Linked DNA regions of Homo sapiens: region 2 is linked to region 1. Evidence: fine-mapped expression QTL. A gene starts in region 1. The other region holds a variant in brackets. All regions are shown on one strand. Distances are between the middles of the regions. Region 1 holds the start of MAST4-AS1 (MAST4 antisense RNA 1). Region 2 overlaps MAST4 (microtubule associated serine/threonine kinase family member 4).

Region 1 (5,385 bases):
TTCCTCATGTACTTAACCTATTTTTATTTTTTCAGTTTGGATACAACCCAAATCCTCTCAAGCCTTTTAAATGCAAAAAAAAAAAATAAATTTAAAGTATATGTAGTTAAAAATACTCATGTCTTTACCCATTCCTTTGAGAATTTCTGTAGAGGCTTTCTCAAAATGCAGAGAGTGGAGGCAGTCATAACATATGATGCCTGCAGATTGGGGTATCTGTCATTTAATCAAGAGAAGAAATAAACATTTTATGTCATTGATTTATCCATTTTAGTTGCTATCATCTTTATAGGTTATGCCCCAATACATGGGCTTTTCTAGAAAAACTATAGAGAATATGAGAGTTGGGAGGTATTGGAGTCCTCAGGTCTTCAAACCACCTACAGGTTGTGTTCTACTCACTGTATCTCCTTCAAGTTTTCTCTGCTCAAACAGCTCTCAGAAAATCCACTCTTGTGTCAGCTCTTTCATCTTTGGATCCAAACACTCTTTCACATAGTTCTCATAGTTTCACATAGCTGTATTCAACTACTGCTTGTTCCCTAAATTTTTTCTTCTCTACTTTCCACAGAGTTCTTCAACCCATAACTTATATAGCACAAGTTCATGTCCACCTTGATTACTCTTCTCTGTGCGGCTTATAATATGTAATTGTCCCTCTTGATCTTGGATACCTACAAGTGAGCACAAAAAGTTATTCTCTGGGCTTGCCTTTGAGGAGGGGACATGGGACTCAAAGGGAATTCCCCTTGAGTTTGATTGTGACATTTCTTAGAGCCATGTAAAGACCTGAGGAATGTTAGCACTGATATCTTTCCAGCTACATGATATAGATACAAATAAGTCACTAAGAGAAAGTCTTCAGAATTTACCGTCTTCATGGGATTCTCAAAAATTCAGTATTCTTTGAGAATACAGATCTACTAGTACTAATAGTTTCAGTGCATCTTAAGAGAAATAAGAGATACTTGGGCTTCTGAAGTATCCATTCAAAAAGGATTTACTAATATTAAATGCCTATATAAACTGAGGAGCTGTCAGGTTCTGAAAATATGAAGATCAGTAAAATGTGACTTTAGCCTTGAGGAACTCAGACTAATTGGAAAGACAGCAGTAAACAGTCAATTATACACAGTGTGATCAGCAGCCTGGTTGAAGACTCTAGAGAGTAGAAAGAAGCACATTGTGGGGTGTCCTCTGCTCCAGTCTTATGTCTGTCAGCATAGTATTCTCTTAGCTTCTGTATACTGCCTACATTTATGCGCAGTGTGTGTGTAGACATTGCGTGAAAGGGCTTATGTATGCCATCTCCTCTTCATTTATGTATATCAGCCTCTTACAGGTTGGTCCTATTATGGACCCCATATTGCAGCTGGGGAAAATGAGAAGAGATTTAAGGTCATAGTAAGTGTTGTATCCAGAATTCAGACCCAAAATTTTTGCTCTAAACCAGTGCTCTGTATCACCCCTCTCAGAGAAGCCTTTATCTGGAGCAGTGGTTCCCAACCAGGGGTGATTTTACCTCCCAAGGGACATTTGGCAATGTCCTCAGACATTTTTAATTGTCAGCACTGGCATCTAGTAGGTCGAGGTCAGCAATGTTGCTAAACATCCTCCAATGCTCAAGAAAGCTCCTCAGACAAAGAATTATCCAGCCTATGTCAACAGTGCTGAGGTCTAGAAACTGCTCCGGAGCACAGGGACACTCTTTTGTGTCAGCCTTCAAAACATCTTTTGCAATACTTAGAAACATTTTTTAAAAGAAGAGCATGGGGCAAAAATGCTGGACCAAGCTCATTAATATCTATTGAAGTGTGTTTTGTCATTTAGTGTCCCTGAATGTTTGGGATAAAGTCCCAAATGTAAAATTGAGAAAATAATGCCTTCTTTGTCTACCTCTGTGGGTTGCAAGGATCTGTGGAGGCTCTGTAAGAATGTGAGGAGATAACGCATACGAAAGCCTTGGACATGAAACATCATCCAAAACTCTTGGAGTCCTTGGTGTGAAAATATTAATGTGGGCCACAAGAATTAGATAAAGAAGATCCCACAGCAGGCTTCTTTTTGTTTACCCCGCCTACCTTGTCAGCTTACACCCCCTCTTCCTTCTCTTTATCCTCCCATTTTTGTAAGCGAGTTTGTTCCTGGTATTTACTGCATGGACTAAGCCATTTTTAGATGTATTTTTTGCTGAATATATACTTTTTTGATTTAGTATTTCTTGCCATATTACACCAGACTTAAGGCAGCTAATTTAAATTATATTTTTTCTTTATGTACTTTATACAAACATTCATGGATAGGGGGAGATATTTAAATACCATGCCTTTCTTCAAAATGAATAACAAGAACATTCAGCCCCCTTCATTCTGCCCTTTCAAGGTCTAACGTACTTGAAGGGGCAATACTTGTAGCATTTGCCACATAAATGCCAGGTAGTGTCTTTCCACATCGGGGCTCACCATTACCTAGATCTGTAGTTGCCGGCCATGAAGCCAAACAGGTGTGCACCGTGGTCATTGATGGAACAGATGTAAACTCATAAATTTAGTTTACTGAGGTTTTCGGTGAGTGTGGCTTCCCGTCCGCGTGCTTTTCCTATACAACCAGCGGCGTCCTGGCGGAGGAGTCACTGTGGACTTCCCCGGAGCGTTGTCACTGCCATCCCTCCCGCGGTGAATCACAGGTCGGCCTCAGGTGCGCGCAGCACACACCCGGAGCAGCCGCGGGTTTATTTATTTATTTCCGGGACGGATCCATTCCGGGCTCCGGGGAGGGGGAGCGGCGGCCCAGGCTGCGGGGCTGTCCCGGCACCGGCTGGGGTCGCGCCGCGGCCGCCTGCTCCCTTTCCCGTGAGCCCCCGCTCCTCAGGCGCGGCCGGGGCTGGTGGGGGGTGGGGGATGCAGGAAAGCTGGGGGCGCGGCCACCAAGCTGTCCAGGGACAAGGCCCTGCCGCCTCCTCCCAGCCGGACCCTGGAAGGGTCCACAAAGGTGTCAGGTTCAAGTCCTCCAATAGGCCCATTTTTTAAAAGTGCTTTTAAGTTTCCGCTTTTTTCAGGAGGGGAGGGCAAGAGCAGCTTTTTCTATTCAAATTCTTTTCCTTGTATGTAGATACCAAAAGGAAACTCGGCACTGGGCATGTTCGGATGTGAATGGTTTTGCTGATAAGCAACAGCCTCCGGAACCAAAGCCTCAAAATAGTCGTCTCCCCCGCCCCTCGCAGAAGCGGCGAGTGGTATCTGCCAAACAGATGACAAAGTACCTCCGACTGAATCCCACAGACAGCGCTTTGAGCAGAACGCACGGCTCAACTCATGTAATTACTGTTTATAGCTGGCCGAGCCTGACTAGGAGAGGGCAGACCCGAGAGGAAATCAGTTTCCCGGACCTTTGAGAGGAGGCTGTGTGTTAATTAAAGGCTAGGACGGGACGGGTACTTCTCAGACATGCTCCAAGTTGTTCTTGAGATCACAGTTCCCATCACATTTTCTCTGGAGGGAGTGAGTAGATAATTGGGATTTTTTTTTTATTTTTGGCCTTGTCTTTCTTCCTTTTTTTTACCTCTCCCCATTTTAGTCATATGGCCTTGAACCCACAGTGAATTGAAGAGAGAAAGAAATGGATATGTCTGACCCCAATTTTTGGACTGTGCTCTCAAACTTTACTTTGCCTCATTTGAGGAGTGGGAACAGGCTTCGGCGAACACAAAGGTAAAAACGCGGGGATCTCTGCCTGGAGAGGGAATGCTTTCACTTCCCAGGGGCCCACAGGCGGAGCTGCCTGAGCCCCTCAGGAGCTGGGGTTTTGTGTATTGGGTGACACTTTGAAAAGTTTATGCCCCGCTAGGGGAGGGGGTACTGTTTCAGGTATTTCTTCGTCCTTGTGGTTTCCTGGGTAACCCTGATAAATGTGCTTCTCATAGGTTTTCTCCTTTTGAAATGTGGATAATAAGACATTTCCTTGTGAGAGGTGGGGGAGAAAAAGGGAAAGAGGAGGAGATACTTTGTCTAAGTCTGTCCCTTTGACCTGATCATGTTTATCCATTTCATTCACCCAGTCATTGAGGCTTCTGGTACTTTTCGTTGAGCCCTTCAGATGTTCCTCTCTATTAAATATTTGACCTTTATAAGATGCAGATGTACGATGCAAGGATAGCCCAGGTTAGCTATTTCATACTATCTGTGGAGAGGCAGATCTACATAACTTTGTCATTTTGATTTTTCAATGGTTTGCTGGCATTTATTACTAATACAGGAGTGTCCTTTTCATTTTGTAACGTATATTTGATAGAAAAGATGGGGAAAGAAAAAGAATTTTAATGTCAAGATGAAGCTCATGCCACAAGTGACAGGCAGTTCCAAGAGTTTGCTGACACTTGTGTTGAGAGACTATGACTTTGAAGGAGGCATTTCTCACCACATTTGTGTCCAGCACAGAAAAGTAAGATTGTTGTACTTTTAGAGGGGCACACCTTTTGAGTTGTGTTAATACTGATTCTTTGTTTTCCTTCAAAACTTGCCTTGCATGTACATGTGAACATGCATGAGAGCAACTTTGCAGTCAGATAAACAGGATGCAGGCTCTCAGATTTGGAGCTTCACAATCTCTATGCTTCAGTGTTCAAAGAACCCAAGAAAATGGTTCGTTCTTTTTGGTTATACCTGTAACTTTTTGTAGTATAAATGTGGATATGTGATACTTTAGAAAACTTAGTTTTTCCTTTTGAAGTTTTTCATGGTTTCTTACATTTCAGAAACATCCTGGAATACTCACATACACTGTTTATATACATGGGTGCACACACAAATCACATGTGCACCTGTGTGTATGAGAGAGACATCTGGCAGGTTTCAAAGTCATATTTGCTTTTTGATGCAGTTTGAAGTGTTGATACCACTAAACTATGTTGGATTCTGAAGTTGTACCTTTTAAGTAATGTGACTATGTTTTTCTCGTTCTGCCATATATGGTCAGAGACCCTCTCTTGTAGTATTGCTCATTTTGTAGTATTGCTCATCAAGTTGTGTCAACCATGCACCAAACCTCCAAGACAACTAATAAAGTTGAAGAGAGATACATGCTACACATGAACTAGGCCACTGCTCAACATGGTGATAATTCGTATGATTTCTTACCATTTCAGCTGGACAGAATCCCTTAAATATTTCTGAGTTGTGTAGTCCTGGCTGCGGTACAGCCTCTACTCTTACCTGGAACCAGTTCTTAGGGAGAGAAGTCTGTTCTGGCATCGTATGTGTGTGTCTGAACCCGTAGAGCAGTTGGAGCCTTTCTTCTTCCTACCTACCTGTTGATAGTATTATTGGAGAGAGTCAGATGCAGGAGGATTCTCAGGCTGCTCTGAGCCTGGCTTTAGGGCAGTACCTG
Region 2 (5,385 bases), 27 kb after region 1:
TCTCTACCTTCTTGAACGCTTGCAGCTTTATGGGAAATGCTGTGGAGTTGGGTGTAGAGACAGGAAAACACAAAGAAGTAACAGAATTTACAGTATCATGTGTGAGTATATGTCTGTCTTACTCCTTCTTAGCCATGCATGGTGGGGATTATAGTGAACTTTGAGGGCATCCAGGAGACACACAACAAAAAAGTGGGCTGTGAAAGAAGTAAACAACCTTGATGGGTGAGAGATCATTGAAATGTGGAAGACTGTAATCTAGGCAAAACAACAACAACAACAATACAAAACAAATAGCTATCGTACAGAGACTCGAGTGAGAGTTGAGGAGCAATTCCATTAGAGTGGCAAACAGGAAATGTACTCTGAGGGTAGGAGGTGCCACTGAAGGGTTTTGTACAGGACAATAAGATCACATTTGCCTGTAGGAAAGATTCCTAGCAATGAGGGATTGAACTGGAGTTGTGCAAAAAGGATTCCAGGATCTGAGTTAGAGCAAGCATCACGGGCTTCTGGGGCAGATGGTGATGATGCCACAAGCAGGCTGGTGACCGTGAGAATGAAGGGAGACGCTCAGGAAGTGGATTCTGAAAGACTGGATGACTAACTGAGTGATTAGAGTGAAGAAGAACTAAAGTGGAGGTTGTGCTCATAGTTCTGCTTTAGCCTGTTAGACAATGGTACCAATTACTGAAATTGGGAACACAGAAGCAAGACACGTTGGATGAAGATGATATCTTCAGTTTGGGATTCATTGGACTGGAGCTTCTATAGACACACCCAAGTGGAGATGCTGGATATGTGGATCTGGATGGAAGGCAAGAGAGTTCCAGATTGGGGATTAAGAGTCATCCACCGCCGGGCATGGTGACTTATGCCTGTAATCCCAGCACATTAGGAGGCCCAAGTGGGTGAATCGCTTAAGCCAAGGAGTTCAAGACCAGCCTGGGCAACATGGCAAAACCCCATCTCTACAAAAATAAAAGATAAATAAATTCGCTAGGCATGGTGTCATGTGCCTGTAGTGCCAGCTACCTGAGATGCTGAAGTGAGAAGATCACTTGAGCCTGGGAGGTTGAGACTACAGGCAGCCATGATCACGTAACTACACCCAGCCTGGGCGACAGCACGAGACACTCTCTCAAAAAAAAAAAAGTCATATACATAAAGATTAATGAAGAGTGCCAAAGGTAATTAGTGTTGAATATTTATTTTCCAGCAGCTTCAAGTATTTATGGTCTGCTTAGACCCAGGTCAGAGTCTAAGGTTTCTGGCCCTCTGCATTCCCAAGAGAAATGGAGGTGGGGATGGGGAGACAATTTGTACATGATTTTAAAAGTGTTTTCTAGGAAAGACAAGCCATAGAGCCATCCTTATACTTATGTTTCCCATAGGCATATATGTTTTGTTTTACTTTGGAGTAATATTCGGGATGTAAACATCTTTGCTTGTAGGAGGATCAGATACCTACTGAAATGTCATCAAACTGCTAGCATGTTTCTTTTAGTTAAGTATATTGAGGGACCTTACCATTCTGTGTATTTCATCTCTAAGAAAAAGGAAATTAGGCTGGAGAGGTTTGAAAGAAATTGAGCAGGAAATTGGGGTTGCAAAATTCTATGGCAAGGTGATGGTGTGTTTTGATTGTTGGGTTTTGTTTGTTTATTTTTTGATAAGAACAAAAAGTGTTTGCTACTTAGAAAACCTTTATTGGCAGCATGATTTCTGTGTCCATGAAGAATGAAAGTGAGGTGGATGGAATAGTAGGAGTTTTAGAAGGAAAGTACATTTCCTCATGTGAAAAAGGTAGGAGAAAGGAAAATATAAATTCATTGCTGTTGACTTTATAATTTGATATTAACAACATTATTGAAATTGCTGTGGACTTGAAGTTTGTCCTGTTTACGAGTTTGCACAAAGTTAATCCTAATTATTCTGAAACTAAGACTTATATATTATTTTTATACATTTGAATTTCTCTAAATTATATACTTAAATTTTGTTTAATGAAATTTTTTCAATTAAATAAAAATGTATGTTTAAGGTTGAAATTTACTAGTATTTCACATGATTCCTTGTTAAGTGTTATATATATTTAGGAGCATCTAGGAAATTGTAAAACCAAATTTCAAATTAAATGTGTATTTTTATTATCTAAATATTTTGTATACATATGGGTCATTCACATCCTTATAGGTTTTTATTTAACAAATCATTTCTCAGGGCAATACAACATAAAGGCTCTATAGTTAATTTAGTAATAGCATGGTGTGATACCTGTATTCCGTATCTCTTTTGTTTTATAGTGTTACAAGCAATATTTGATGGTTTAGGGTTGTTTTCTTTTTAAACTTTGGCTTGAACCAGGTTAGCACTGAATGAGAGCTCTGAGATGACCATCTGATGTTTATTAGATAGCTGTGGTAAAATGACATAATCATCATTTTGGTTTTGAAGAGGTAACCATAGCACTGGTGGCAAAAATAGATCATCTGAGTGACATTTTAACTCAGAAAATAAATACCTTTTCATTTCTGTACATCACCATTCCAGAGCAGGCCTGGGGCAAATTGGTCAGAGTCCTAAGGGGTGATATTTAAAATAAGATCTGTTTTGTATTAGTAATGAGGTTGTGGTTTTAAGCCCTTCCATTCTGTTGTGTAGTTTCAAGGGAGTTTAGTTTAAAACATTAAAACCATACAAACATTGTATATTTGGAACACCTAACCTCTTCTAAGTGTTCTGTACCTCAGCACTTTTTTTATCTTGGGTGTTTGTGTCACTCTCTTACAACGTCTACTTTTATAAAGCCTTGGGTATCTCAAACGCTATGTTTTTATTTAGTATTTTAGTGCAATAGAACATTGTGCTAAAGAGGCCAAGGTCATGGGTGTTGATTCTATGCCAATTAACTGTTATGGTGAAATTTTTTTCCTGTAGCTTTGGCTGGTATTTCAGAAGTTGCTAGAATTTGACTACTTTTGTTTAAAGTGTGGATAATGCTGCCTAACTCATTAACTGTCCTGTAAAAAGTAAAATTGATGTCTATTGGGGATAACACTTCCACATAGGATATTTTTTTCCT[A/G]TGTGAAAAAAGCATTTACTTTCATCTGTGGATGATCTCTGACTAGACTAAAATGTATGCGTTTATTAAATAGATTAATATCAGTTCCTGGTGGGTGGAGATTATCAGTCTTTAAATTGCTACTCTTTGCTGCTTTCCTCTGCATAGATACAGAGAATCTGTCAGCTCCCTGGCTAGTCCAGCAGAAAGCCCTGGGCATTTCCCAGAGTTGATGGCAGAGGAGGGTCGTCTCTTGTCGCCTTTTTAGCCTGATTTATTGCCCTTGAATTTTTTAATAAGGACATATTTTAAGTTCTGTCTAGGGACTGAGGGCTTGGATCATTCATGCAGTGAACTTTGAATAAGTTGGAAAGATTGGCTGGGCCCTGTTATCATAATGGATGGTGACTATTTGACATTTACAGTGGTATGCTCCATTTGCACTAAAATAAATGAATTTGTATTTAGACATGATTTGCAAAATTTTTCCCTATCACACTTAAAGTAGAGGTTATTTGCATTCAAAGTTAAACACTGAAAAACTGCGTACAGACTTAGTGAAGATTTGTAAAATACATGTTAATTGGCATAACACCATTAAACCTGATTGTGCTGATCTGTTAGCTGGAGAAAGAGCAGGAATCATCTTGTTCCCATATCCCTACAATCTAAATTGTTAGAGTTTCTAAAGATGGGGGACTTCTCTGAAGTGAATATTCCTGTCAGGCCTGTTGACCTTACTGCCTAGTGACCTATTCATAGGTCAGGATGGCAGTTCTCCCTGCTGGGTCAGTTTTTATTCCACCTTCTTTCGTGAGAGAACTAATTTGTACAGCTCTTACAGGTGGAGAACTAGATCACTGGTGTCCTTTACTGCCTCTGATATATGTGGAAATGAATCAGTGGAAAATTCAGTTACTCATCGTGACCTACTTCTGTCACTTGCGTTGAAGGGGTGCTTATTTGTCAAAAGCAATCTGCCCCCCTTCCAAAAACTCTTGCTCCATGGCTGCTTTAACTCATTTAATCTATAGATTCTTTCAGAATGTTTGCAGTTGCCTAAATCTTTCTGTGAATTATCCTGCTGTACCTGTAATCCATTTTAGATTAAGCCTCTGGAGGCCAATGAAAAAATCTGACTTTGTTACCTCTCAGCACAGCCTGACCCACAATCTCTGCTTTCTAATGAAGATTCCAGGATCTTTAGGAGAAACTGTAAAATGGAAACTTCCACTAATTTGAGAAGGGGGAGATTTAAGAAAGGTTGGGTTTTATTATGACTAAACTTCCCCACCCACGTTTTTTGCAAAATTTATCTTTTCTCATTTTTATTGGCTTATTCTTTCAAAATATTCATTTATTCAGCAAGGTTTAATTAAGCATGCCTCTGTGCCAGGTATTGCATTAGGGTCACAGAAAGAACAAGATACATGCTTGTCTGCAGTGCCTAGTAGGAGAGCTATAAGGTATCATGTTAGAATAAATAAGACCGGTTTTAAACGCCATTTTTATTTTGGGGGAGGGCAGAATTATTTTACATCAAGAACAAAATAAGGGTTACTTCTTACCTGACTTGATGATTTTTCAGCAGCATAGTCTGGTCTGTCTGGATCAGTGGTTTACCTATTTCATATGGTCACATGTGTCAGTATGTACAATGATTATTTACCATAGACTTTTAGGTAAATGATGAGAGGATTATTGAGAACAACAGAATTCAAAACCCTTGAAAAAGAAAATGATGTGTATCTATATTTTAAGCAGAAATACACAAACACACTTATAGTAACTACAAATAACATCTAGTAGCTCAGACCTATTGCCATTTATTTCATGTTCAATATTGTACAGACAACAAACTATGAAAAGTGATGTACCATATTTATATGTATACAGGTGAATTTCAATCCAACACTAAGATAATTACTTTATGTTGTAGAATCATATATAAATACTTTTTGCCCTGTTCTAACCATGCTTACGAAGACTTTCAGATTAAGAATGAATGGTCATACTTAAAATAAATAGAAACTAGTATTTGATGAGGAGAATGGCATTCCTTTGGAAACCCATCTCATTCTTGGCAGTTAATTAGTTCTTACTGTGAACATCTAACCCTTAAAAAAAAAAAAGAAAGAAAAACACTCTTGCTGACTTGATAACACTTTTTAAAAAGTGGCAGCTATTAACATTAAAATAACAGTGAAATTTTTCTCTCAGCTGAGAGTTGTAAGGATTACTTTTTTGGGTTTTCATTTCTCTGTGTGTGTGTGTGTGTGTGTGTGTGTGTGGCTTTTTTTTTTTCAGATTGTTACAGATAC

The links.
Region 2: its variant is fine-mapped to the expression of MAST4-AS1 in whole blood (INTERVAL, PIP 0.95).

Annotation. Positions count from the first base shown.
Region 1 is chr5:67,001,376-67,006,760 of GRCh38, forward strand. MAST4-AS1 (MAST4 antisense RNA 1) reads right to left here and starts at 2,779. Exons shown (of 2, transcript NR_111908.1): 1 at 2,469-2,779; 2 at 243-674. All of the region lies in intron 4 of MAST4 (microtubule associated serine/threonine kinase family member 4), which reads left to right. RefSeq lists a silencer at 2,657-2,996.
Region 2 is chr5:67,027,991-67,033,375 of GRCh38, forward strand. All of the region lies in intron 4 of MAST4 (microtubule associated serine/threonine kinase family member 4), which reads left to right. Among named protein-coding and RNA genes, the nearest start is that of MAST4-AS1, 27 kb to the left of the region's middle. The variant A/G (reference allele first, on the strand shown) is at 3,086.